7 linked regions of the Homo sapiens genome follow. The protein of the gene in region 2 interacts with the protein of the main gene of each other region in a biochemical or structural test. Each region holds a gene or a part of one and is shown on either strand. Other genes may lie near its edges.

What was found.
Region 1: of the proteins of TOP1 (region 2) and SRPK2, one has a biochemical effect on the other in vitro, tested with the Homo sapiens proteins (one large-scale study listed by BioGRID).
Region 3: the proteins of TOP1 (region 2) and ELK3 interact in a test that uses a peptide from one of them, tested with the Homo sapiens proteins (one study listed by BioGRID).
Region 4: the proteins of TOP1 (region 2) and BTBD2 form a complex in vitro, tested with the Homo sapiens proteins (one study listed by BioGRID).
Region 5: the proteins of TOP1 (region 2) and PARP1 form a complex in vitro, tested with the Homo sapiens proteins (one study listed by BioGRID).
Region 6: the proteins of TOP1 (region 2) and RBL1 interact in a test that uses a peptide from one of them, tested with the Homo sapiens proteins (one study listed by BioGRID).
Region 7: the proteins of TOP1 (region 2) and APAF1 interact in a test that uses a peptide from one of them, tested with the Homo sapiens proteins (one study listed by BioGRID).

The regions. Positions count from the first base shown.
Region 1 is NC_000007.14:105,378,922-105,382,421, forward strand, and holds part of SRPK2 (SRSF protein kinase 2), read right to left. Parts: intron 1-3,500. UniProt on the Homo sapiens protein: Serine/arginine-rich protein-specific kinase which specifically phosphorylates its substrates at serine residues located in regions rich in arginine/serine dipeptides, known as RS domains and is involved in the phosphorylation of SR splicing factors and the regulation of splicing.
Region 2 is NC_000020.11:41,119,322-41,122,821, reverse strand, and holds part of TOP1 (DNA topoisomerase 1), read right to left. Parts: intron 1,127-3,500; coding exon 1,032-1,126; intron 817-1,031; coding exon 667-816; intron 1-666. UniProt on the Homo sapiens protein: Releases the supercoiling and torsional tension of DNA introduced during the DNA replication and transcription by transiently cleaving and rejoining one strand of the DNA duplex.
Region 3 is NC_000012.12:96,246,375-96,249,874, reverse strand, and holds part of ELK3 (ETS domain-containing protein Elk-3), read right to left. Parts: intron 2,936-3,500; coding exon 2,141-2,935; intron 1-2,140. UniProt on the Homo sapiens protein: May be a negative regulator of transcription, but can activate transcription when coexpressed with Ras, Src or Mos. Forms a ternary complex with the serum response factor and the ETS and SRF motifs of the Fos serum response element.
Region 4 is NC_000019.10:2,005,715-2,009,214, forward strand, and holds part of BTBD2 (BTB/POZ domain-containing protein 2), read right to left. Parts: intron 1-3,500.
Region 5 is NC_000001.11:226,366,594-226,370,093, forward strand, and holds part of PARP1 (poly [ADP-ribose] polymerase 1), read right to left. Parts: intron 1,729-3,500; coding exon 1,606-1,728; intron 1,016-1,605; coding exon 887-1,015; intron 1-886. UniProt on the Homo sapiens protein: Poly-ADP-ribosyltransferase that mediates poly-ADP-ribosylation of proteins and plays a key role in DNA repair.
Region 6 is NC_000020.11:36,998,924-37,001,997, forward strand, and holds part of RBL1 (retinoblastoma-like protein 1), read right to left. Parts: intron 7-3,074; coding exon 1-6. UniProt on the Homo sapiens protein: Key regulator of entry into cell division. Directly involved in heterochromatin formation by maintaining overall chromatin structure and, in particular, that of constitutive heterochromatin by stabilizing histone methylation.
Region 7 is NC_000012.12:98,676,290-98,679,789, reverse strand, and holds part of APAF1 (apoptotic protease-activating factor 1), read right to left. Parts: intron 2,366-3,500; coding exon 2,239-2,365; intron 1-2,238. UniProt on the Homo sapiens protein: Oligomeric Apaf-1 mediates the cytochrome c-dependent autocatalytic activation of pro-caspase-9 (Apaf-3), leading to the activation of caspase-3 and apoptosis. This activation requires ATP. Isoform 6 is less effective in inducing apoptosis.

The sequences.
Region 1 (3,500 bases), on a different chromosome or scaffold from region 2:
GTGGGAGAGTAAAGTAGTTCAATCAAAACTACATCTTTGAGCCTGGGCAACATAGGGAGATCCCATCTCTACAAAAAATTTTAAAATCAGCTGGGCATGGTGGTGCTCACATGTAGTCCCAGCTACTCAGCAGCCTGAGGCAGGAGGATCATTTGAGGCCAGGAATTTGAGGTGGCAGTGAGCTATGATTGTGCCACTGTCAGCCAACAAAGCAAGACCCAGTCTCTAAAAAAAAATATATATATATATATAAAGTCAGCCCTCTGAAACTGTGGACTCTGCATCCATAGGTTCAACCAATCATGAATCAAAAACAATCAAAAGTAAATAAATAATAACAAAATAAAAACTACAAATTAAAAAAACACCATGTAACAACCATTGACATGGTATTTACATTGTATATATATTATTAGTAATCCAGAGATAATTTAAAATATACAGGAGGATGTGTGAAGGTTACAAGGGACTTGAGTATCCTCAGACTTTGTTATTTGAGGGTGTCCCAGAACCAATCCTCCAAGCGTACTGAGGGATGACTGTATATTCTATATGATTTCATTTATATGAAATTCAAGAACAGACAAAACTAATCAATAATGATAGATATCAAAAAAGTTGTTGCTCCTAGGTGGTAGAGTATAGACTCGGGAGAGGCATGAGAAAACTTATGGAGCATTGAAGGGGTTTTATATACTGATCTACATGGTCGTTACAGGGGTATAAATAAATGTAAAAAAAATCATCAAACTGTACAATTAAGACGAATGCACTGGGCCAGGCGTGGTGGCTCACGCCTGTAATCCCAGCACTTTGGGAAGCCGAGGCGGGCAGATCACAAGGTCAGGAGATCGAGACCAGCCCGGCCAACATGGTGAAACCTCGTCTCTACTAAAAATACAAAAATTAGCTGGGGAGTGGTGGCACGAGCCTGTACTCCCAGCTACTCAGGAGGCTGAGGCAGGAGAATGGCTTGAATCGGGGAAGCGGAGGTTGCAGTGAGCTGAGATAGCGCCACTGCACACCAGCCTAGCGAAAGAGCAAGACTCCGTCTCAAAAAAATATGAGTGCACTGCCAGGCATGGTGGTAGGCACCTGCAGTCCCAGCTACTTGGGAGGCTTAGGTGGGGTATCACCCAAACCCAAGAGGGTGAAAGCGGCCTAGGCAACAAAGCAAGATCCTATCTCTAAAAAAGAAAATTAAAATTAAAAATGATGTTTTATCCTTAAGAGGGAGTTTCACTGCGTCGCCCAGGCTGGCACTAAGTGGTGCAATCTCAGCTCAAAGCAACCTCTATCTCCCGTGTTCAAGCAATTCTCCCACCTCGGACTCTGGAATAGCTGGGACTACAGGCATGTGCCACCACTCCCAGCTAATTTCTGTATTTTTAGTAGAGACGGGGTTTCATCATGTTGGCCAGGCTGGTCTCAAACTCCTGACCTCTAGTGATCCTCACTGATCTTTAAAAGATCAATGCACTTTACATACATGCATATACATGTATGCTAGGACTCAATTTTTGAAAAATGAACAAAACCATGCACAAGTAAAAGAATAACACACCAAAACAATTAGATACCCTAAATTAACATGCTAAAATTTTTTTTTTTTTTTTTTTTGAGATGGAGTCTCGCTCTGTCGCCCAGGCTGGAGTGCAGTGGCGCCATCTCAGCTCACTGCAAGCTCTGCCTCCCGGGTTCAAGCAATTCTCCCGCCTCACCCTCCTGCATAGCTGGGATTATAGGCACATGCCACCACGCCTGGCTAATTTTTGTATTTTTAGAAGAGACGGGGTTTCGCCATGTTGGTCAGGATGGTCTTGATCTCCTGACCTTGTGATCTGCCCACCTCGGCCTCCCAAAGCGCTGGGATTACAGGCGTAAGCTACCACGCCCAGCTGCTAAAAAATTTTTAAATTAAAAATAATTAGTGGAGCCACAGCTGACACTTGCTTCTTAAATCTTCTGTATTATACTGAATTCTGTACTGAATTTTTTACCATGACCATATTACTTTTATTACTTTAAAAAAAAAAAAAAAAAAAAAAAAAGCTGGGCCAGGGGCAGTAGCTCATGACTGTAATCCCAGCATTTTGGAAGGCTGAGGCAGGCAGATCACTTGAGGCTTAGGCCAGGAGTTCCTGACCAGGCTCTACTAAAAATACAAAGAAAATAAGCTGGGCATGGTGGCGCATGCCTGTAATCCCAGCTACTTGGGAGGCTGAGGCATGAGGAGCGCCTGAACCCAGGAGGCAGAGGTTACACTGAGCCAAGATCATGCCACTGCATTCCTGTCTGGGTGACAGAGCAAGACTGCCTCAAGAAAAAAAAAAAAAGTTATTTCATTAAAATGACAATATTAAAATGAAATCTGGCCAGGCGCAGTGGCTCAAGCCTGTAATCCCAACGCTTTGTGAGGCCAAGGCAGGTAGATCATGACGTCAGGAGCTTGAGACCAGCCTGGCCAATATGGCGAAACCCTGTCTCAGTGAGCCAAGACCAGGCCACTGCAGTCCAGCCTGGGCAACAGAGCAAGACTCCATCTCGAAAAAACAAAACAAAACAAAACAAAAACAAAAAAACTAAGCACTACTGTACCTAAATCTTACAGTTCTCATCACACTGTCCTGCAATGGTCTTTTCACAAAGCAATCTCTTCTACTTTAATTATCTTACTCTTCTAGCATCCAACACACACCCTGGCACTAGCTATCTGCAGCACTAGGTATTTGCTTCGTGTCCATTTACTGTATTCTACTGTAGAGGTAGTAAGCAAAAATGTTTGTTGAATAAACAAATGTGTAAAAAAATAAGAAATGAAAATTAGGTAATCCATGAGAAGTATTCCAAAGTCATGGGCTTATGAGCTTGAATTTATACTACAGGGAAGTATAAATTCAAGGGTTGAGGCTTACTGAATAAGGATATAAACTTGTATCATTACATTCCAAAACTGTCTCACCAAGCTGGGCACGGTGGCTCACGCCTGTAATCCCAACACTTTGGGAGGCTAAGGCAGGCAGATCATTTGAGGCCAGGAGTTCGTAACCAGCCTGACCAAGATGGTGAAACCCCATCTCTACTAAAAATACAAAAATTAGCCAGGCGTGGTGGCACATGCCTGTAGTCCCAGCTACTTGGGAGGCTGAGCCAGGAGAATCGCTTGAACCTGGGAGGTGGCAGGTGCAGTGAGCCATGATTGCGCCAGTGCACTCCAGCCTGGGCGACAGAGCAAGATGCCATCTCAAAAAAAAAAGTAGAAGCAAAGTATACCCAGATATCCTTTAGCCTGTGAATAAACTGTTAATCCACACAATGGAATACTTGTTACCAATAAAAAGGAAAGCACAGCCAGGCACGGTGGCTCATGCCTATAATCCCAGCACTTTGGGATGCCAAGGCGGGTGGATCACCTGAGGTCAGGAGCTCGAGACCAGCCTGACCAAAGTGGAGAAACCCCGTCTCTACTTAAAATACAAAATTAGCCTGGCATGGTGGCA
Region 2 (3,500 bases):
AGCACCAAACAAGGCAAAACGAGCAGAAAGAGGTACAAAAGACCTAGATGGAAACTTTAGCCCGGACTAGCAAGTGCCATAGGGGAGGATATCTCCACCTATGCTCAGAACTTAACAGCTCAAACTAAACATCTTCCATAACAAAGCCACTTGTTTCAGATGTTATGTGACACTGTGTGTGACACACAGAGAAACCTAGTATTTATCTGCTTTTGTTAAAGGTCCCTCTGCCTCTCTGTGTAAGTTGCTCAGATCTGTATTCTCATCTTTATCTCTTGTTCCTACCTTCAACTGCAAAAAAATTCAACGAAAAGTTTTGTTGAAGTGTAGAGATGGATGGGCTCTTTCCTATTCTTCCAGAAGCTAAGAGTTTCCATTCCTGTCCTAAAGTTCCATTAGGAATAGGGATGGCACCTGCCTCTTAAAAATATACACTACAAGGCAGTGTAACAGCACTGACCATTTAGGAGCAACCAGAATGTTGCAATGCATTTACAGACAAGGTTCAGCAACCAGAGTAACTTGTACACAGCTGAAGCCAGAAGTTTCCCCAGAGGACTAAAGTGTGTAGCTTAGGAATGGCATGTGAAGGCCACCAGTGCTCTCGGAACCCCCTCCACCTTTCTTAAGCTAGCAGCAGGAGCTCAAGGAGGGCTCAACACTTACCAAGCCACTGTGATCCTAGGGTCCAGATAATTGAGTTTGGAGGTTCCCAGGGCAATCTGTTTATTTTCCTCTCGGTCTGTGGCTTGAACTTCCAGCTTCATCAACTGTTCCTCCAGTCTCTGAACAGCCTTCTTCTTTGACTCTACTACCCTAGAAGAATAGCAAAGTCCTCAAGAACCAGGCCTGGGCTCTAGACAAGAGCACACTGTACCCATCCTGCCACTTTGAGTCAATAAAAGCCCTAGTATAGAGATTTCCAAAAGACATTTCTCAGAAACCATCGAAAAGCCAGGGCCCCAGGGGCCCTGACAGATGCTGCACACTTTTCTCTACCAGCCCCAACTTTCACAATACCAGGTACATACTTCTTCGTCTTTGCATCCTTCATGACCTTGGCATCAGCCTTAGCACTTTTCAGGTCTCTCCGGGCATCTGCTAGCTGTTCCTTCTTGGCATCAATCTAGGGGAAATAATAGTGGTAAGGTTATGAGCTGTAGAGGAAAAATGGCTCCACCTGAGAAGGTGAAACCAAGATGTTATCTGGACCAGGCTGTCTCTGTCAGTGGTTTGTCAGATAAAAAAAAACAAGGGTGGCTTCATGAAGGCAGGGAGAAGATGCACAAGGACTAGTGAATTCAACTATTTGTTCTTCAGTGATCTGGAAAGAAACAAGGGTTTTACAGGGCAGTAACCTAGGGGCTCAGGGAAAGGAACCCGCTGGGGCTGGGAATCTGGGTGCTGATCTTTCCATCAGAGAACACTCTGCTGTCATACATCTGGGAGGATGGCTACAAATGACAGCTGTTTATCAAATAGATCCTGTGCCAGTTCTTAGCTTTCATTCTAAGAACACTGTAGGAGCTCCTCTTTAGGAAACTGAAGCAGGATACTTGCATCTACTGGGCAACCCCAGCTCGTTCCTCAGATCCCACCAGTACTCTGGGAAGGCGGTGCCAGCTTCTCAAGGAAAATGGATGCACTGAAGAGAGTACTCAAGGGGCTACAAACTGGCAATTAAAAGACACCCAGGAAGCCAAACAGCTCAGCCAGTCTGTCCCAAACCAGGACATGGCAGGGCTTAGCTTTGGCATTCTGTTTTTAAAAGGAGAGCGGTCACCAGGCGCGGTGTCTCACGCCTGTAATCCCAGCACTTTGGGGAGGCTGAGGAGGGCGGATCACAAGGTCAGGAGATCAAGACCATCCTGGCTAACACGGTGAAACCCCGTCTCTACTAAAAATACAAAAAATTAGCCAGGCGTGGTGGTGGGTGCCTGTAGTCCCAGCTACTCGGGAGGCTGAGGCAGTAGAATGGCATGAACCCGGGAGGCAGAGCTTGCAGTGAGCCGAGATCATGCCCCTGCACTCCAGCCTGGGCAACAGAGCGAGACTCCGTCTCAAAAAAAAAGGAGAGAAGTCTGAGGTGGGAAGGACCTTAGTTGTCACTCAATGGATGTGAAAACACTTTTAGCTGTGGAGCTTTTTTCCCCATGTGAACTCTCATGGAATCCATATCTATAAGGGAAGAGACAAGGGCAGTTTCAGCCTTTCTTGCTTGTTAGAATCTTTGAAGCACCCCTGGTGAATCTAAGTTCTTCTCAGATTCCTGCTTAGAGACAGCAGTGGATAACAACATGGAGCTAGAGCCCCTGTCACTGAGCTCACGCTACTCAGAGGGCAGGAGAACCCCATACCTATGGTCATCTATGTGAGGTGAAGACAACCTCTACGGAGTAAATAACATGTCTGACACACACTGGGCTGCTCACTGAACCTGGAATTGTTTGTTGTTAGATACACACAGCCCAAGATTGGAAACAGAGGCCACCATTGTGAGAGGATCACTAAATATGTTTTACTATGAATGGCTTACTTCCAACATCTATGTTGTCCAAAGCCAAACTGAGGGGACTGATTCTATATACAAAAGCATCACAGACACCACTAGCCAGATTCTTTTTAGGATAGAAATGTAGCAAACCATGATCTTTTAACCATTTCTGTGAATGCTAAATTGGCAGGCTATGTCAAATTCTCTCAAAGCATCAAAGACTCCATTGATTCACTTGGCAAACAGGGGCGTGTGTTTGCTTTGTGGGCACACAGGAGAGGAATCCTGGGTTTGGAGGGCTCATCTGGCAGGCAGCCTGGGCTGCCCAAACCCGGTTCCAGAGCGAGAGCAACAAAAGACCTCCTCATGCTCCTGGGAGGGGTTTTCCTGAATTAGGTAAACAGCACCTGAATATTCATGCTTTTATTTCTGGCTTGTAATGATAACATGAGGAGAATAAACAATTCCAGATGACCAGCATTTAACAGAGTGGCAGCAAATGTGAGCTGCTAGGATGGGCCGTCTATAGAGTTCTTTGCCTGCCAATCATATGATCCAAGGAATCAAAGGTCTATGGATGTATACTCATTCACTGTGGACATGTACGTCTCTTCAAGAAAGCCAGATGGCATCTGTAGCATAAATTATAAGTTGTGTGTACCTTTTGAACCAGCTATATTACTCATGGGTACTTATCTTAAGGAAATCTCAACAAATGGAAAATATTCTGGGCCTTAAAATGCAGTCTCATTCCACAGTAGTAGTTCTTAAACTCCAGTTGTACAAGTATAGAATTCCATGAACTTGGATGAGAAAAAATCTATAATTTCAATAACCTCTTTTTGGAACTTATTTATATTTATTTTTAAATTTTTAATACAGACAGGGTCTCACTATGTTGCCCAGGTTGGTCTTGAATTACTCAGCTCAAGTGATTCTCCCACCTCAACCTCCCAAAATGCTGAGATTACAGGTGTGAGCCACTGCACCCAGCTTCTAGCTGAAA
Region 3 (3,500 bases), on a different chromosome or scaffold from region 2:
TGGTGGCTTCTGGCTCCTGGTCGTGCCCTCTGCATCCATTTGTTGGGCATCCACCCTTGATCCTTCTCTCACGCCCTCAGCCCCACCGATGGGAGCCACCACTCCATCCACATTATCCACAGGGCTGGCTGAGCTGACTTCCTCTGAGACAGGGCTGGCATCTGCCTCACTCTGTTCTGAGAAGGTGATCCAGGCTCCCAGGGAACACAGACACCTAAATCAGAGTCAGCCCTGGCCTGGCTTCGGACCTTTCTCACCCTGACAGTTGTAAACACACAGGAGGCCAGGGGAGGAGATGCTCAGATCATCTACCCTGGCCCTGCCTCTCAAGATACTCCCCTGAGCTACATCAGGAGCTGCTGTTTCTGAGCCATTTGCTCAGCAGCCCTTGGTCACTGGACAGCCTTGCTTAACTGGAAGATGCCTGATTTAAGAGCACACGTGCTCACTCTGACCTATATCCTGATCCCCTGGCCCTCCCCCTCCGCAGTGGCGCGCGTCACCACCAGCTCACAGGCTTGAGCTGTCATGAAATCCTGGGCAGAATCCAGTCCAGAGAAAGCGTGGAGAGGACAGTGGCCCAGAGCTGCTTTCAGGTGCTCCATGGACGGCCATCGTGATCAGGGACACTGCCTTCTCGCAGCGGGAATGCATTTCATTTGAGAGCATGGATTCTGGAGGCAGACACTGGATCCAAAGCCACCTCTACCACCTATTGGCTGTGGGACCCTGGACGAACTACTTTACCTCTGTGCCTCATTTATCTCAGCTGGGAAACAGGATGATAATAATAGCACAGGCTCAGCATCCCAAATCCAAAAATTCCCAAATCCCAAATCCTCCAGAATCTGAAACTTTCTGAGTCCTGACATGACACTCCAAGGAAATGCTCATTGCAACATTTTGGATTTCAGATTTTCAGATGTGGGATATTCAACTGGCAAGTATCATGCAAATATTCCAAAATCTGAAAACATCTGAACTCTGAAATGCTTCTGGTCACAAGCATTTTGGAAACAGGATGCTCAACCTGTATCCACGTGACAGGGCTGCTGTAAGTGTGGATACAGGCAATGCATGTAAAGCATCTGGAGCAGTGCCTGGCACACGTGGGGAGCCCGTCATATGCTGCCGCGGCTGCTGCTAATGACAACAGGGACAACTACGATGAGATTACAGAGGCAGGGGACGGGTGCAGCTCCACGGTTAACAATGCTACCAGGTGTCCCCAGCTCACAAAGCCTGTCCATGGTCCCATTTTCCACACATGGAACCTGGCCCAGAGAGCAACCGCCCACAGTCCCACTCCTAGGAAGCAGGGTAGCCAGGAACTGAATGCAGGTCTGTGAACCTAAAACGAATACTCTTTTAACCTCTGCCACTAAAATTGCATCCAATTTTCAAGGGGAAGGAGAAATATGGTTTCCCAGCACCTACTACGCCTTTGCACTGCAATTGTCAGCTGGACAAGAAAGAGCATCTGAATATCTGATTTAAAGGAAAAGGCTGCTTTCTCTTTGGGACTAATAACAACGAAGGCTTTTTTGGCTCTGCAAGTTTGCTGTCCTCTCGCCAGTGCTGTGGACTGGGGCTTTCTCAGAGTAGTGCTGCTTTCAGCGAAGCAGCTGTTTGGGGTGGCCCCTTTGTTTCTTATTACCTACGCTATGACCACAGCTCCACACTGACATGCGATGGCGGCATCAGTTGACATCTATTTTCTTGTTAACAGAACACAAGTGGCTCCTTATTAAGCGCCCCCAGAGAAGATTCTGCCATAAAAATTTCATAAAGCCCAAGCGCCTCCCGAAATGTAAACTGGCCCGCTCAACTTTCCCTTGGAAATCGCTGGTGAGATCTGCTTTGTCGGCCAGTGTGCGTGTTCCACCTATGGTCACTTTAGGCCGCTAAAAGCAAGAAACCAATCAAGCATCCCACTAGAGTCGACAAACCAAACCCTGTCTCATGTGCACCCCTTGGTCTGAGGATGGAAAAGCAGCTTCCCTTCACATTTACACAGTGACCTCGGTACGAGTCATAGGACAACGTTTTGAGGGACAGAAGGAAGTCTCTTTAGTTGCTCTTCCTTTTTTGCTAAGCCACTGAAGCTGGCTGTGGCTTAGATGACAGGAATGACTCTTACCTGTGCGGTGAAGAAGGCTGGGGTGAGGGATCCCGAGGGGAGGGCTGGGCTGTTGAGGGCGATGGAGCCGATGTCGGTGCCGGAGAGCACCAGCGGGGGCGCTGAGATTTCCAAGCCTTTGGGTTTTTTGGCCTTTGGGGGAAGAGATGGAGACTTGGTCTTGGAGCCCGATGACAGGTTCAAGGGCTCCAGGGAATCGGAGTCATGGCAGGCGGCCTCCAGGAAGAGGCTTCTGTGTTCAGAAGGGAGGGGTGAGTTGGGGGACAGGGACGGGGACCGAGATGAGAAGGGTGAGGCGGATGAAATACTGGCAGCGTTTGGCAACATTAAAGAGGAGATCTTGGCCGAGACGGACGAGGCCAGGAAGGCGGACGCCGCCGCAGCCTCTGACGTGGAAGGCAGGGACACCACCGGCCTGGTGACGTGCTTGTCGGTTTTATTGGTCACAAACCTGATCACAGTCCTGACTTCTTCCACGGGGGGGCTGTCTTCGGGCGGCTCCTCCAGCTTCTCCGTCTTGATGGCCTTGAAGGCGTCTGGTGGGTTCTGCAGGGAATTAATGGTGAAGGACGAGTACAGGCCTGAGTGGATGTATTCGTTGCGGCTCGTGCTTCTGAGGGCGGCCAGGCCGTGTTTGTGGGCCTCGCGGCCCTCCGGAGACGCCTTGCAGTCGCTGTCCTGCAGCAGAAGGCTCTCCCGGCTGATCTCCACCGCGTGAGGATCCATCTTCAGGATCTCCGGGAAAGAGACAAACTTGTACACAAACTTCTGCCCGATCACCTTCTTGATGATGTTCTGCAAATACAAAAGTAGACGTTGAAAATCTGAGTGCACCCGAGAAACCATGTAAGAGCTCATGATAATGGTAAATGTCGCTGGCAGAAGCACCAAAATGTTCCTGATTTACATTCTTGGCTAAGGAAAAGTGGAAGGAGGAATGAAGTTGGAAGTAGAATTAGATGTGCATTCCAGTTCTGCCATTACTAGATCTTTGTGATCTTTGGCAAATTAAGTGCCACTTTGAGTTTCCTCGTCTGTAAAGTAAGGAAGATGATGATGATGATGATGATTTCTTAGACAGGGTCTCACTCTGTCGCACAGGCTGGAGTGCAGTGGCACGAACATGGCTCACTGCAGCCTCAACCTCCTGGACTCAAGCAATCCTCCTGCCTCCACCTCCTGAGTGGCTGGGACTACAGGTACATGCCACCACACCCTGCTAATTTTTACATTTTTATTTTTTGTGGAGACAGCATCTCACTTGGTTGCTCAGGCTGGTCTCAAACTCCTGGACTCAAGCAATCCCCCAACCTTGGCCGAGTGAGGATTATTCTATGTAATAACATAGTAACAGCTGCCA
Region 4 (3,500 bases), on a different chromosome or scaffold from region 2:
GAGGTTGCAGTGAACCAAGATCACACCATCGCGCTCCAGCCTGGGAACAAGAGCAAAACTCCGTCTCAAAAAAAAAAAAAAAAATTATTTTTTAGCCAAAGCAGTGGCTCACACCTGTAATCCCAGTGCTTTGGGAGGCCAAGTTGGGAGGATCACCTGAACCCACAAGTTCAAGACCAGCCTGAGCAACACAGCAGACCCCATCTCTACTAAACAGAAAAAAATCAGCCGAGCATAGTGGTGCATGTCTATAGTCCCAGCTACTTGGGAGGCTAAGGTGGGAGGACTGTTTGAGCCCAGAAGCTGGAGGCTGCAGTGAGCTATGATCGAGCCACTGAACTCCAGTGTGGGTGACAGAGTGAGACCCTGTCTCTAAAAAAAAAAAAAAAAATTTAATTTTTAAAAAGTCTAAGAGTCCAAGGGGTCAATACTAGACACACATGGCTATTTAAATCTATATCCAAATTCAGCTGAATTCAACATTCAACTCCTCGGTCACACTGTCCACATCTGTAGTCCGTACTGGCACATGAGTGCCTAGTATTGGACAGCACACATCCAAACCATCCCGCTTACTACAGGATACTCTACTGCAGAGCACAAGACCACAGAAAAACTGTTAAACCTAATAAGGCTTCAGGAAGAAACAGTTCAAACCAGATAAAAGTAAACATGCCAGCTACTCGGGAGGCTGAGGCAGGAGAATCACTTGAACCCAGGAAGCGGAGCTTGCAGTGAGCTGACACTGTGCCACTGCACTCCAGCCTGGGCGACAGAGCGAGACTCCGTCTCAAAAAAAAAAAAAAAGAAAAGAAAAATCACCCAACTTTATGTCCTTAGAAAGACCAATCTCCTCAGTAAATTCCTTTATCACTTGACAAACTGATTCTCAAGATCATCAGGCACCGTTAGCCCAGGGCTGGCAAACTATGGCCCTTAGAGTGAATCTGGCCCACCACTTGTTTTTGTAAATTAAGTTTTTTTTTTTTCTGAGACGGAGTTTCACTCTTGTTGACCAGGCTGGCCTGCACTGGCACTACCTCAGCTCACTGCAACCTCCTCCTCCCAGATTCAAGCGATTCTCCTGCCTCAGCCTCCTACGTAGCTGGGATTACAGGTGCTCACCACCATGCCCAGCTAATTTTTTTATTTTTTATTTTTTTGAGACGGTCTCACTCTATCGCCCAGGCTGGAGTGCAGTGACGCGATCTCGGCTCGCTGCAACCTCTGCTGCCCAGGTTCAAGCAATTCTCCTGCCTCAGCCTCCCAAGCAGCTGGGATTACAGGCGCTCGCCACCACGCCCGGCTAATTTTTGTATATTTAGTAGAGATGGGGTTTCACCATCTTGGCCAGGCTGGTCTTGAACTCCTGACCTCATGATCCACCTGCCTCGGCCTCCCAAAGTGCTGGGATTACAGGCGTGAGCCACTGCGCCCAGCCACTTTTTGTATTTTTAGTAGAGACGGAGTATCACCATGTTGGCCAGGCTGGTCTTGAACTCCTGACCTGAGGTGATACTCCTGCCTCGGCCTCCGAAAGTGCCAGGATTACAGGTGTAATCCACTGCACCTGGCCAATAAAGTTTTATTAGAACACAGCTCTTCTTGCTCAGTTACATGTTGTTGATTTATGGCTTTTTGTGCTGCTACGGCAGAATTAAGTAGCTGCAACTGAGACAGTATGGCCTGCCAAAAATATTTACTATCTGACCCTTCACATGAATTTGCTGGCACCTGTGTCTTTTATCTGTTTTGGTTTTGTTTTACACACAGTCAAGGTCTCACTATGTTGCCCACACTGGTACCAAACTCTTGGCTTCAAAAGATCTTCCCGCCTTAGGCCAGGGACGGTAGCTCACACCTGTAATCCCAGTACTTTGGGAGGCCGGGGATAGCCTGAGGTCAGGAGTTTGAGACCAGCCCGGCCAAAATGGCGAAACCCCGTCTCTAAAAATACAAAAATTAGCCGGGTGTGGTGGTGCACACCTGTAATCCCAGCCACTCGGGAGGCTGAGGCAAGAGAACTGCCGGGAACCCAGGAGGCAGAGCTTTGCAGCGAGCCAAGATCATGCCACTGCACTTCAGCCTGGGCAACAGAGCGAGACTCTGTCTCAAAAAATAATAAAACAAAACACAGAATATAAGTTCCATAAGGAAGGAGATGTTTTTCTGTCATATGCACCTCCTGTAGCCAGGACTGTATTTCAGTGAGTATCTGTAGGGTGGACAGATGGGTGGATGTGGGTGACTGATTCTAGAAGAGTAATAAATGTGTCAGACCAGCTGAGAAAGTCTTTTTTTTTTTTTGAGACAGAATTTTACTCTTTTTGCCCAGGCTGGAGTGCAGCAGCACGATCTCAGCTCACTGCAACCTCCACCTCCCAGGTTCAAGCAATTCTCCTGCCTCAACCTCCCGAGTAGCTGGGATTACAGGCACCTGCCACCACGCCTGGCTAATTTTGTATTTTTAGTAGAGACAAGGTTTCACTATGTTTGCCAGGCTGCTCTCAAACTCCTGACCTCAGGTGATCCGCCTGCCTCAGCCTCCCAAAGTGCTGGGATTACAGGGGTGAGCCACTGCGCCCACTCTTTTTTTTTTTTTCTAGGTGGAGTCTCGCTGTGTTGCCCAAGCTGGAGCCCAGTCGTGCGATCTCAGATCACCACAACCTCTGCCACCCAGGTTTAAGCGGTTCTCCTGCCTCAGCCTCTCAAGCAGCAGGTGCAAGCCACCATGCCTGGGTACTTTTTGTATTTTTAATACAGACAGAGTTTCACTATGTTGGCCAAGTTGATCTCGAACTCCTGACCTCAGGTGATCTGCCCGCCTTGGCCTCCCAAAATGCTGGGATTACAGGCGTGAGCCACTGTGCCCAGCTTTTTTTTTTTTTTTTTTTAGGGACAGAGTCTCACTCTATCGCCCAGGATGGAGTGCAGTGGTAGGATCATGGCTCACTGCAGCGGCAACCTCCCAGGCTCAGGTGATCCTCCTACCCGAGCCTCCTGAGTAGCAGGGACCACAGGCACACACCACCATGTCCAAGTAATGAGGTCTCGCTATATTGGCCAGACTGGTCTCGAACTCCTGGGGTCAAGTGATCCTCCCACCTCAGCCTCCCAAAGTGCTGGGATTACAGATGTGAGCCACTGCACTCAGCCTGAAAAGTCTTCACAAAGAATAAAGTTGGGAAGAATTTGGTGAGCAGTTCTCAAAACATACCACAAAGCAGCAATCATCAAACAATGTGTTATGGGAACAAGGACTCACAAAGCAGTCAATGAAATGTGAGACCCCAGAACACACTGTTCTTTTTTTTTTTTTTCCAAGACAGAGTCTCGCTTTGTCACCCAGGCTGAAGTGCAGTGGCACAATCCTGGCTCACTGCAACCTCCGCCTCCCAGGTTCAAACGATTATCCTGCCTCAGCCTCCCCAGTAGCTGGGGTTACAGGCGCTCGCCACCACGCCCGGCTAATTTTTGTGGTTTTTCTTTTTTCTTCTTTT
Region 5 (3,500 bases), on a different chromosome or scaffold from region 2:
AACCTAGAATGCTGGTCTACCTCCCTGTCTTTTAATTAAAAGGCTTCAGAATTGTAAAAAGAGAATAAGAATCCCTTCACGAAGAACCACACCTACAGTTTTCCCATCAGGAAGGTGCTCTAGGGGCAAAACAAATGACATGTGGTGTCTTACCCTGCTTGGACCCATAGGTCTATACTTTGTCCTAGGAAAGAAGCCAAGGCTCTTTCTTTAGCGATGTAAACACCTGGTACCAGACTCAACATACTCTCGCCCACCCAAACCCCTGCAACACTGCAGGGAATGGGCTGAGGACAATGGGGCACATGAGTGTGGAGATAGGCTCAAGGACCGGGCCATCTAGAAGCTGAGGCAAAAATCCCTCCTCTAGTTGGTCTAAGCGGGGTGTTCAGAGACTGTGTGTGCCAACACAGTCCACTTCAGCACCAGAGAAAAATGAACGCAAGCATTGTGTTTTTATTACAGGTGCCATCAAGCATTTCCACTTCTGAAATGGACACCGGTAATAAGTCTTCTAAAAGTTCACGCTACAAGGGTTTAGAAAAACAGAGCTCCTCTCTAGATTAAGGAGAGGAAACAAACAAACAAACAAACAAAAAAGAACTTTTGGTAAGACCCTCAAAAATAAATTTGTACGCCAAGCTGAGGTGCTGGCTTGGAAGGCTGCCTTGCAAACAAGGTGCATTATCTACACGTGAAACGCCCAAAGGTTCTCAAAGGACCACCAGCAGCAATGTCCGGGAACTTGTTAGAAAAGTGAATTATTGGGCGCCAGCCACCTGTGTTTTAACAAGCTTTCCAGGAGATCCTAACACACATGGAAGTTTGGGACCGCTGCTCTCAGGATGAGAGGTTAAGATGCTTGAGGAAGGCCTGACCCTGTTACCTTAATGTCAGTTTTGAGCTTCTCATAGTTGACATCGATGGGATCCTTGCTGCTATCATCAGACCCTCCCCTGAGCAGACTGTAGGCCACCTCGATGTCCAGCAGGTTGTCAAGCATTTCCACCTTGGCCTGGAGGAGCAAAAGAAAGCCCCCGACTTAGGTATCATGGTGAATGAGACAGACTCACCCAGGTGGCAGAGAAAACCTACATGCAGAGAAGGTCCAACACAGTGAATGGCAAACCCTCCTGCTGGTCAGGGCCAGCCTGTTACCTGCTGCACATATTGAGAGCTCATAAGGACTTTCTGGAATGTTAACAAGGCCTTGTGGCCTGGGGGAGTTGAGAGGTGGAAGAACTGTCTTTCCTCTCGTACATGCTGACATTTGGGACCTACAGTGAAGGTACTTTAGACAAATGGGTCCTGAGCCAGGAGCTGTCTTAAAAGGCAGGGAGGGAAAATGGGGAGGAAGATGCTGTTATGAGGGAGAGGCTGTCCCTCTCCAACAGCTCTTTCCCCAGTGGATTTGGTAGAACAGGGGCAGGAAAAACAGCTCTGCCTCCATCAATGTGGGTAGAAACCCAACTTCAAAACAAGGGCAAGAGGGTGGCCCTCCCAGCATTGGTGCTGCCCTCAGGGATCATGATGGGGAGGGACGGCTGCAAGGTAGTCACACCCCAGCCCAGCAGACCTGCAGTCCCTTCTGAACCCTTGCGCTACCTGCACACTGTCTGCATTGTTCAGGAGCGGAGGCTTCTTCATCCCAAAGTCGTGGGGGATCAGGGTGTAAAAGCGATTTGAGAGATCCAGGATCTGAGAGTCGCTGCTGCCCTGAGACACCGCCTGGAGAGGAGGGGACAGAAGGAATGCAAGACTGAGGGAGCAGCTCCAAGCCCCCGGCCAGGCTTTCTCTTTTAGCAGGTGGGTGCTGCAGCAGGTCCAGAAGTAGCGTGGTATGTGCACATGCCAGGACACATGGGAAACGACCAGAAGACCATCTTCCTGTTAAAGAGCAGGGCAGGACCCCCATCCTCTAAAAGCACTGCTCAACACGTGATGGGCTTCTCCCATGAAGTTTCATTTGTACAAAGAACTGTGCAGTTACAGACATTTGAAACCCCGCCACAACTATGCAAAATGTTAACTGTAAAATCTAGGTGGTGGGCTAATGACTATTGCTGTAAAATTCCTTCAACTTTTTGTATGTTTGAAACATTTTCATAATAAAATGTTGGGAGGAGGTTGCCCATCGCTATAAAATTCAGTCAGGCTCCCTGCCTCCACTGACCTTCATTGGAATTAGTTTTTACTGTACCTGGAGGTTGAGGTGGCCAGGCACAGAAAGGCTAAGCAATCCTTACACTCACTGCCAGTGTCACTTGGTGCTCTATATGCAAAGGGTGCACAAAAAATGCACAGAGATGGAAGAGCGGGGCCACTGGGATTCCAGGAATTTCGCAGACAGCCTAGGTGACCACAGGAAGGTCAAGGGAATATGAAGTGGCACCCAGCAGGTCCGAAGCCCCACGCCTGCTTCTCGCTGTGACATGGACTTCACCAAGTTGTACAACTTCCATCTGTGCTGCCCAGGTGGCTCTGGCAATGGGTAAGGATGCTATTCCAGCTCTTCTTCCTGAAGACTATTGCATGGGAAGAAGCTGGGGCCGAGGAAAGCCTTGTAAGTTCTCAGTCAGTAAGGAACAAGGAGAGAGGTTCACTGCTCAGAGCCAGCTGTAACTGAAGTTGACAGATCCGGTTCAGCGCCTTTTCTCCAGCACCAGCCAGAAAGCCCGCTGCCTGGGCCCACTTCTGCTTCCTGTGTGCTTTCCTTCTTTCTACAGGCCAGGCCTGCACCCACCCACAAATATAAGCGGAACCCTCCAGCCCCTCCAGGATGTAGCTGGAAGGCTCCGGGACTGGTAGACCTTGAAAGATGCTCAAAGAATGTTGAAATAACATGAATGAAAGAGGCTTCCATTTGATGACTTCCTAGTAACTGCAAAATAAACTCTGCCTAACTCTTAAGGACACATAAAATAAAAACCACAACACAGGTGACCCTTGAACAATCGATTTGAAGTATGCGGGTCCACTTATACACAGATGTTTTCAATAAATACAGTTAGCTCTCTACACCTGTGGGCTCTGCAGTTGAGAATTCAACCAAACTCAGATAAAAAATATAGTATTCTCAGGCCAGGTGTGGTGGCTCATGCCTGTAATCCCAGCACTTTGGGAGGCTGAGGCAGGCGGATCACTTGAACCCAGGAGTTTGAGACCAGTCTGGCCAACATAGTGAAACCCCACCTCTACTAAAAATACAAAAAAATTAGCCGGGTGTGGTGGCCCATGCTTGCAACCCCAGCTACTTGGGAGTCTGAGGCACGAGAACCGCTTGAACCTGGGGATGGAGGTTGCAGTGAGCTGAGATTGTGACACTGCACTCCAGCCTGGGGGACAGAGCAAGACTCTGTCTCAAAAAAGAAAAAGAAAGAAAAATCCCACCAAAAAAAAAAAAAAAAAATCTCAGGATGCGAGACCCACAGATGTGCAGGGCCAACTTTTCTCCTCCATGGGTTCTGCAGGGCACTCTAGGACTTGAGCATGAGTGAATT
Region 6 (3,074 bases), 4.1 Mb from region 2:
CAAACTCTGTGCAGAAATAGAGAACGTGTGTGAGTAAAAGAGGGAGAGGGGAAATGGCAGCAAACAACCAAGCTAATTGTTTTTTCCTGTGCTCTATCCTCTATCCAAATCTTAACACTGGGATAAGGACTCTTTTTAAAACTTAGAACAACCTAATAAGGGATGGCTTGAACTAATCTTTTCAGGTGGTTTAAAAATTAGATTTAAGGCCAGGTGTGGTGGCCTGTAATACCAGCACTTTGGGAGGCCAAGATGGTTCAATCACTTGAGCCCAGGAGTTTCAGACCAGCCTGGGCAACATGGCAAACCTGGTCTCTACAAAAAATACAAAAATTAGCCAGGTGTGGTGGCTTGTGCCTGTAGTCTCAGCTACTCGGGAGGTTAAGGAGCATCACCTGAGCCTGGGGAGGTTGAAGCTGCAGTGAGCAGTGATCATGCCTGGGAAACAGAGTGAGACCTTGTCTCAAAAACCAAACCAAGAATAGAAAAATAAGCTTCCCGTCTCCCTCCTCTCCCTCTCCCTCCTCTCCCTCCCTCCTCTCCCTCTCCCTCCTCTCCCTCTCCCTCTCCCCACGGTCTCCCTCTCCCTCTCTTTCCACGGTCTCCCCCTGATGCCGAGCCAAAGCTGGACTGTACTGCTGCCATCTCGGCTCACTGCAACCTCCCTGCCTGATTCTCCTGCCTCAGCCTGCCGAGTGCCTGCGATTGCAGGCACGCGCCGCCACGCCTGACTGGTTTTCGTATTTTTTTGGTGGAGATGGGGTTTCGCTGTGTTGGCCGGGCCGGTCTCCAGCTCCTAACCGCGAGTGATCCGCCAGCCTCGGCCTCCCGAGGTGCCGGGATGGCAGACGGAGTCGCGTTTACTCAGTGCTCAATGGTGCCCAGGCTGGAGTGCAGTGGCGTGATCTCGGCTCGCTACAACCTCCACTTCCCAGCTGCCTGCCTTGGCCCCGCAAAGTGCCGAGATTGCAGACTCTGCCCGGCCGCCACCCCGTCTGGGAAGTGAGGAGCGTCTCTGCCTGGCCGCCCATCGTCTGGGATGTGAGGAGCCTCTCTGCCTGGCTGCCCAGTCTGGAAAGTGAGGAGTGTCTCTGCCCGGCCGCCATCCCATCTAGGAAGTGAGGAGCGTCTCTGCCAGGCCGCCCATCTTCTGCAATGTGGGGAGCGCCTCTGCCCTGCTGCCCCGTCTGGGATGTGAGGAGCGTCTCTGCCCGGCCGCCCCGTCTGAGAAGTGAGGAGACCCTCTGCCTGGCAACCGCCCCGTCTGAGAAGTGAGGAGCCCCTCCGCCCAGCAGCCACACCCTCTGAGAAGTGAGGAGCCCCTCCGCCCGGCAGCCACTCCGTCTGGGAAGTGAGGAGCGTCTTCGCCTGGCAGCCACCCCGTCTGGGAGGGAGGTGGGGGTCAGCCCCCCACCCGGCCAGCCGCCCCGTCCAGAAGGGAGGTGGGGGGGTTAGCCCCCCGCCCGGCCAGCCGCCCCATCCAGGAGGGAGGTGGGGGGGTCATCCCTCTGCCCAGCCAGCTGCCCGTCCGGGAGGGAGGTGGGGGGGGTCAGCCCCCCCGCCCGGCCAGCCGCCCCGTCCGGGAGGTGAGGGGCGCCTCTGCCCGGCCGCCCCTACTGGGAAGTGAGGAGCCCCTCTGCCCGGCCAGCCGCCCCGTCCAGGAAGGATGTGGGGGGGTCAGCCCCGGGCCCGGCCAGCCGCCACATCCGGGAGGTGAGGGGCGCCTCTGCCCGGCCGCCCCTACTGGGAAGAGAGGAGCCCCTCTGCCCGGCCAGCCGCCCCGTCCGGGAGGGAGGCGGGGAGGTCAGCCCCCCGCCCGGCCAGCCGCCCCGTCCAGGAGGGAGGCGGGGGGGTCAGCCCCCCGCCCGGCCAGCCGCCCCGTCCGGGAGGTGAGGGGCGCCTCTGCCTGGCCGCCCCTACTGGGACGTGAGGAGCCCCTCTGCCCGGCCAGCCGCCCCGTCCAGGAGGGAGGTGGGGGGGTCAGCCCCCCGCCCGGCCAGCCGCCCCATCCGGGAGGTGAGGGGCGCCTCTGCCCGGCCGCCCCTACTGGGAAGAGAGGAGCCCCTCTGCCTGGCCAGCCGCCCCATCCGGGAGGGAGGTGGGGGGGGTCAGCCCCCCACCCGGCCAGCCGCCCCATCCGGGAGGGAGGCGGGGAGGTCAGCCCCCCGCCTGGCCAGTCGCCCTGTCCCGGAGGGAGGCGGGGGGGTCAGCCCCCCGCCCGGCCAGCCGCCCCGTCCGGGAGGTGAGGGGCGCCTCTGCCCGGCCGCCCCTGCCCGGCCGCCCCTACTGGGAAGTGAGGAGCCCCTCTGCCCGGCCACCACCCCGTCTGGGAGGTGTACTCAACAGCTCATTGAGAACCGGCCATGATGACAATGGCGGTTTTGTGGAATAGAAAGGGGGGAAAGGTGGGGAAAAGATTGAGAAATCGGATGGTTGCCATGTCTGTGTAGAAAGAGGTAGACATGGGAGACTTTTCATTTTGTTCTGTACTAAGAAAAATTCTTCTGCCTTGGGATCCTGTTGATCTGTGACCTTACCCCCAACCCTGTGCTCTCTGAAACATGTGCTATGTCCACTCAGGGTTGAATGGATTAAGGGTGGTGCAAGATGTGCTTTGTTAAACAGATGCTTGAAGGCAGCATGCTCGTTAAGAGTCATCACCACTCCCTAATCTCAAGTACCCAGGGACACAAACACTGCGGAAGGCTGCAGGGTCCTCTGCCTAGGAAAACCAGAGACCTTTGTTCACTTATCTGCTGACCTTCCCTCCACTATTGTCCTGTGACCCTGCCAAATCCCCCTCTGCGAGAAACACCCAAGAATGATCAATAAAAAAGAAAAAAAATGGAAAAAAAAAAAAAAAGAAAAATAAGCTTCCCATTATGCAAGAGTCCTATGGCCTTTGTGCTTTCCTACCCTGTGAACTAAGAGTCTAAATCTGTGAAAAGATGTCCATGAGGTAGAGTTGAATTAAAATAGCAGGTTGCAGAACAATAAAAAAAAAAAAAAAAAAAAAAAACAAACCAAACCAATCCAAACCAAAACAACTGAATTTACTGTATAACAGTAGCTCT
Region 7 (3,500 bases), on a different chromosome or scaffold from region 2:
AGCATGGGCTCTGGCTCTCTGTGAGGCTGTGGCTGGACCAGGCACACCACAAGCAGCTTACACGCTGGCACCGGGGAACACGGTGGTGCCCAGAAGCTTGGAGATGCCAGGAACCGCGGGGCCCCAAAGAGGGAGTCACAGCCCTAGCTTGGGGAGCTCCCAAGTCTGGGCTCCCCGAAGGGCCGCAGCTTTTCTTTACTTATCTTCACTTGCAATGCGGCAAGCAAGGGGCATGTCTCAGCCCTGTTTGTGTTACAGCTCTTTTAGCCTCACCATTCAGTGGGATCCCAAGTTCTTGTCCTACAACCAGGAAGAATGTGGTACGCTGACAGGTGGAAGGTGAGCAAGACAAACAGGAGCTTTATTGAGCGATAAAATAGCTCAATAAACCTGCGGGGGGCAGCTCCTTTCCACAGCTCAGGAGAGGGTAGCTCCTCTCTGCTAGGCAAGTCCTCCTGACAAGTGTTCAGCTATCAGCAGAGAGGGTAGCTCCTCTCTGCAGCTGGTCCTCCTGTCATCTGCACAGCTCTCAGCAAAGAGGGGGCACTAGAGTGGGTTGCTCCTCTCTGCAGCTGGTTGTCCCAGTGTCTGCTCAGCACTGGCTAAGCCCGAGGCTTTTATGGGCTTCAGAAGGGAGGAAGTACATGCCAACTGGTCCATGGGCAGACATGGGCAAGCCTGGAAAAGGCACTATAAGTTCCCACTCCAGTCCATTCAGTCCACACCAGCAGCCCAGCCCCCAGTCTTCAGGCCCTTTGTGGCCTGAAGGTGGGGCCTCATTGGTGACCCGCCCCCTTCCACCCAGGAACCTGTCTGCCTCCTGCTGCCATGAATGGCACCCAGGCTGTAGGTGCCAAGGGGAGCCTGCAGGCCAGTATCAAACTGCCCTCAGCACCCCCTTGGCTTCCCTCCTATGCTCATCAGCACCCAAAGTCCGGAGGGGGCCGAGGCGGCAGGGGGCTGGCATGTCAGCACTGCCCCAAGCATGTGCACATCTGGCCGGGCTGCAACAGCACCCAGGCTCAGCCCCAGCTTTGCTCTAAGATCAGAGTGGGTGCCAACAGTAGGGAGAAGTCAGGCAGCGGGAGCAGGCACTTCCAAGCCTACAAGGGCAGGGGGTCCTTCCAGGTCCCCCAAGAGTACAGGGATGCCTGAGTCTGCAGCCACCGCTTGGGCAGCTACAGCTGCACCAGGGGGAAGGGGTCCTGCCTGCTCTGTGGAGCCGGAGGCCCGAGCCTGCAGCTGTGGTTTGGGCGGCTACAGCTACACCCAGGAGGGCAGGGCTCTGGCCTGCTCCATGGAGCGGGTTCCCAGGTCCACAGCTGTGGCTTGGGCGGCTACAGCAGGAACCAGGAGCTCCTGCCCCAATTCAGAAGGGGTAGGGTTCCTGCTTGTCCCCAGCTACCGCCAGCTCCACAGAGCATGCAGCCCCAGCTGCGCCTCCCTGCTGCAGCCAGCATGATGGCAGCAGCCACTCCAGGCAGCCCGCCGCTGCCATCAAAAAGAAGTGTCAGAGCACAGCTTCAGCTCTTGAGACTATTTTGGCAAATTCTTAACAATCAAATAAAACATTTCATTTAATATGCATTCTCTCTGGAACTCAAAAGCCAAGATTAATAAAATTAGTAATAAAGTACACATATAGACATAAGCTATGGAGTCATAATCTTGCAAAGACTAAAAGTATCCTAAATACAAGTTTTAACTAATTTCATCATGTTCTCTGCAAAATCAAAAGGCAGAACACAAACATAAAGAAAAGTACTCATTAATATTTTCTGAAAACAAAGGGAATCTTAAAGGAAATTCTTTAAAACAACTTAGGAAATAGTCTAGTCCAGTTCCTATTTACAAGAAAAAAACCTATGCCTAAGACTTTGATAAAATAGGTATTTTCCTAATCACTGTTTTTTAATCACAGCCCTATTCCCTGTGCTATGAAGCCCTACGTCTTCTAACAATTATTTCCTCACTACCCTTAGCTGACAAATGGATGGCTGGGAACTGACTGGCAGGGTAAAGGGCACTTCCTTACCACCTGTAAGTTTAGAATTAGGAAAACATGTAACTGTATCTTTTAAATCTCTAGAGAAACCTTTAATAAAATGTTCAAGAGAGCTGGATTCCTCTGTTATTTCTAAGTTGCAATTTTCTTGAATTTTAGGATTTAAACATATTCTGATCTGCACAAAACTGGATACATGCCTCTTTGCATTTTTCTCAAGAGATGTGTTTTACCTGTAAGGTTTTATCAGCTCCACAAGAAGCTATTCTCTGACCATCCTCAGAAAAGCAGGCATGGTAAACAGCATCTGTGTGGGGGCGGACAACTAAGCGGGAAAGATTCGTGATGTTTTTTTTGTTTCTAAATACAGGGAAAAAATGAACAGAAATTAAATAAATGAGAGTAAAAGTAACTATTTTCTTTCAGTACTAAAATAAACTGTCTTTTAACATGGTTATGTTCCCCAAAATACAAAATTCTTAAAATCAGATTACTAACATGCAAATGACAGCACAGATCACCAAAAGAAAAAAAATAACAAAAGTAGCATTTGTAAGAGAAATGTTACCCTTTATCAAGCAACCTGTCACGTGTTACAAATGTCACTGAGTTGGAAGAAATCTAATTAATCAAATTAATCAAATCTAGTTAATCAACATGTCACTTTCCATTTTCCTTTGATACATTAATAATGATACATGTGCAGATAAATCATTATATAAGGATACCTTCAAAAATTCTCCATCTCTTTTTTAAAATAAAAATCATAGCAAAATGCTCATTTCCTAACTGAAGGAAACACCCACCATTATTATGATGTACTTTAAAGCTGCTCTTCTCAGCCAGGCGCAGTGGCTCATGCCTGTAATCCTAGCACTTTGGGAGGCCAAGGTGGGTGGATCACCTGAGGTCAGGAGTTCAAGACCAGCCTGGCCAACATGGCGAAACACCGTCTCTACTAAAGATAAAAATTAGCTGGGTGTGGTGGCACGTGCCTGTAATCCCAGCTACTTGGGAGGCTGAGGCAGGAGAATCGCTTGAACCTGGGAGATGGAGGTTGCAGTGAGCCAAGATCGCGCCACTGCACTCCAGCCTGGGCGACAGAGCAAGACTCCATTTCAAAAAAAAAAAAAACTGCTTCTCTCAAACTACAATTATTCAGACATACCAAAAAGATAAAGCAACATCATATTCTTTGTATCTCAATCTAATGAATATCAACTATTCCACCAGTATAGATATTATATTACTGCTCATAGTATCTAAAGTATAAAGGGGCCAGGCATGGTGGTTCACACCTGTAATCCCAGGACTTTGGGAGGACGAGGCGGGCAGATCACTTGAGGTCAGGAGTTCGAGATGAGCTTGGCCAACATGGTGAAACCCCATCTCTACTAAAAATACAAAAATTAGCAGGCATGGTGGCACACACCTGTAATCCTAGCTACTCGGGAGGCTGAGGCATGAGAATCGCTTGAACCCTGGAGGTGGAGGT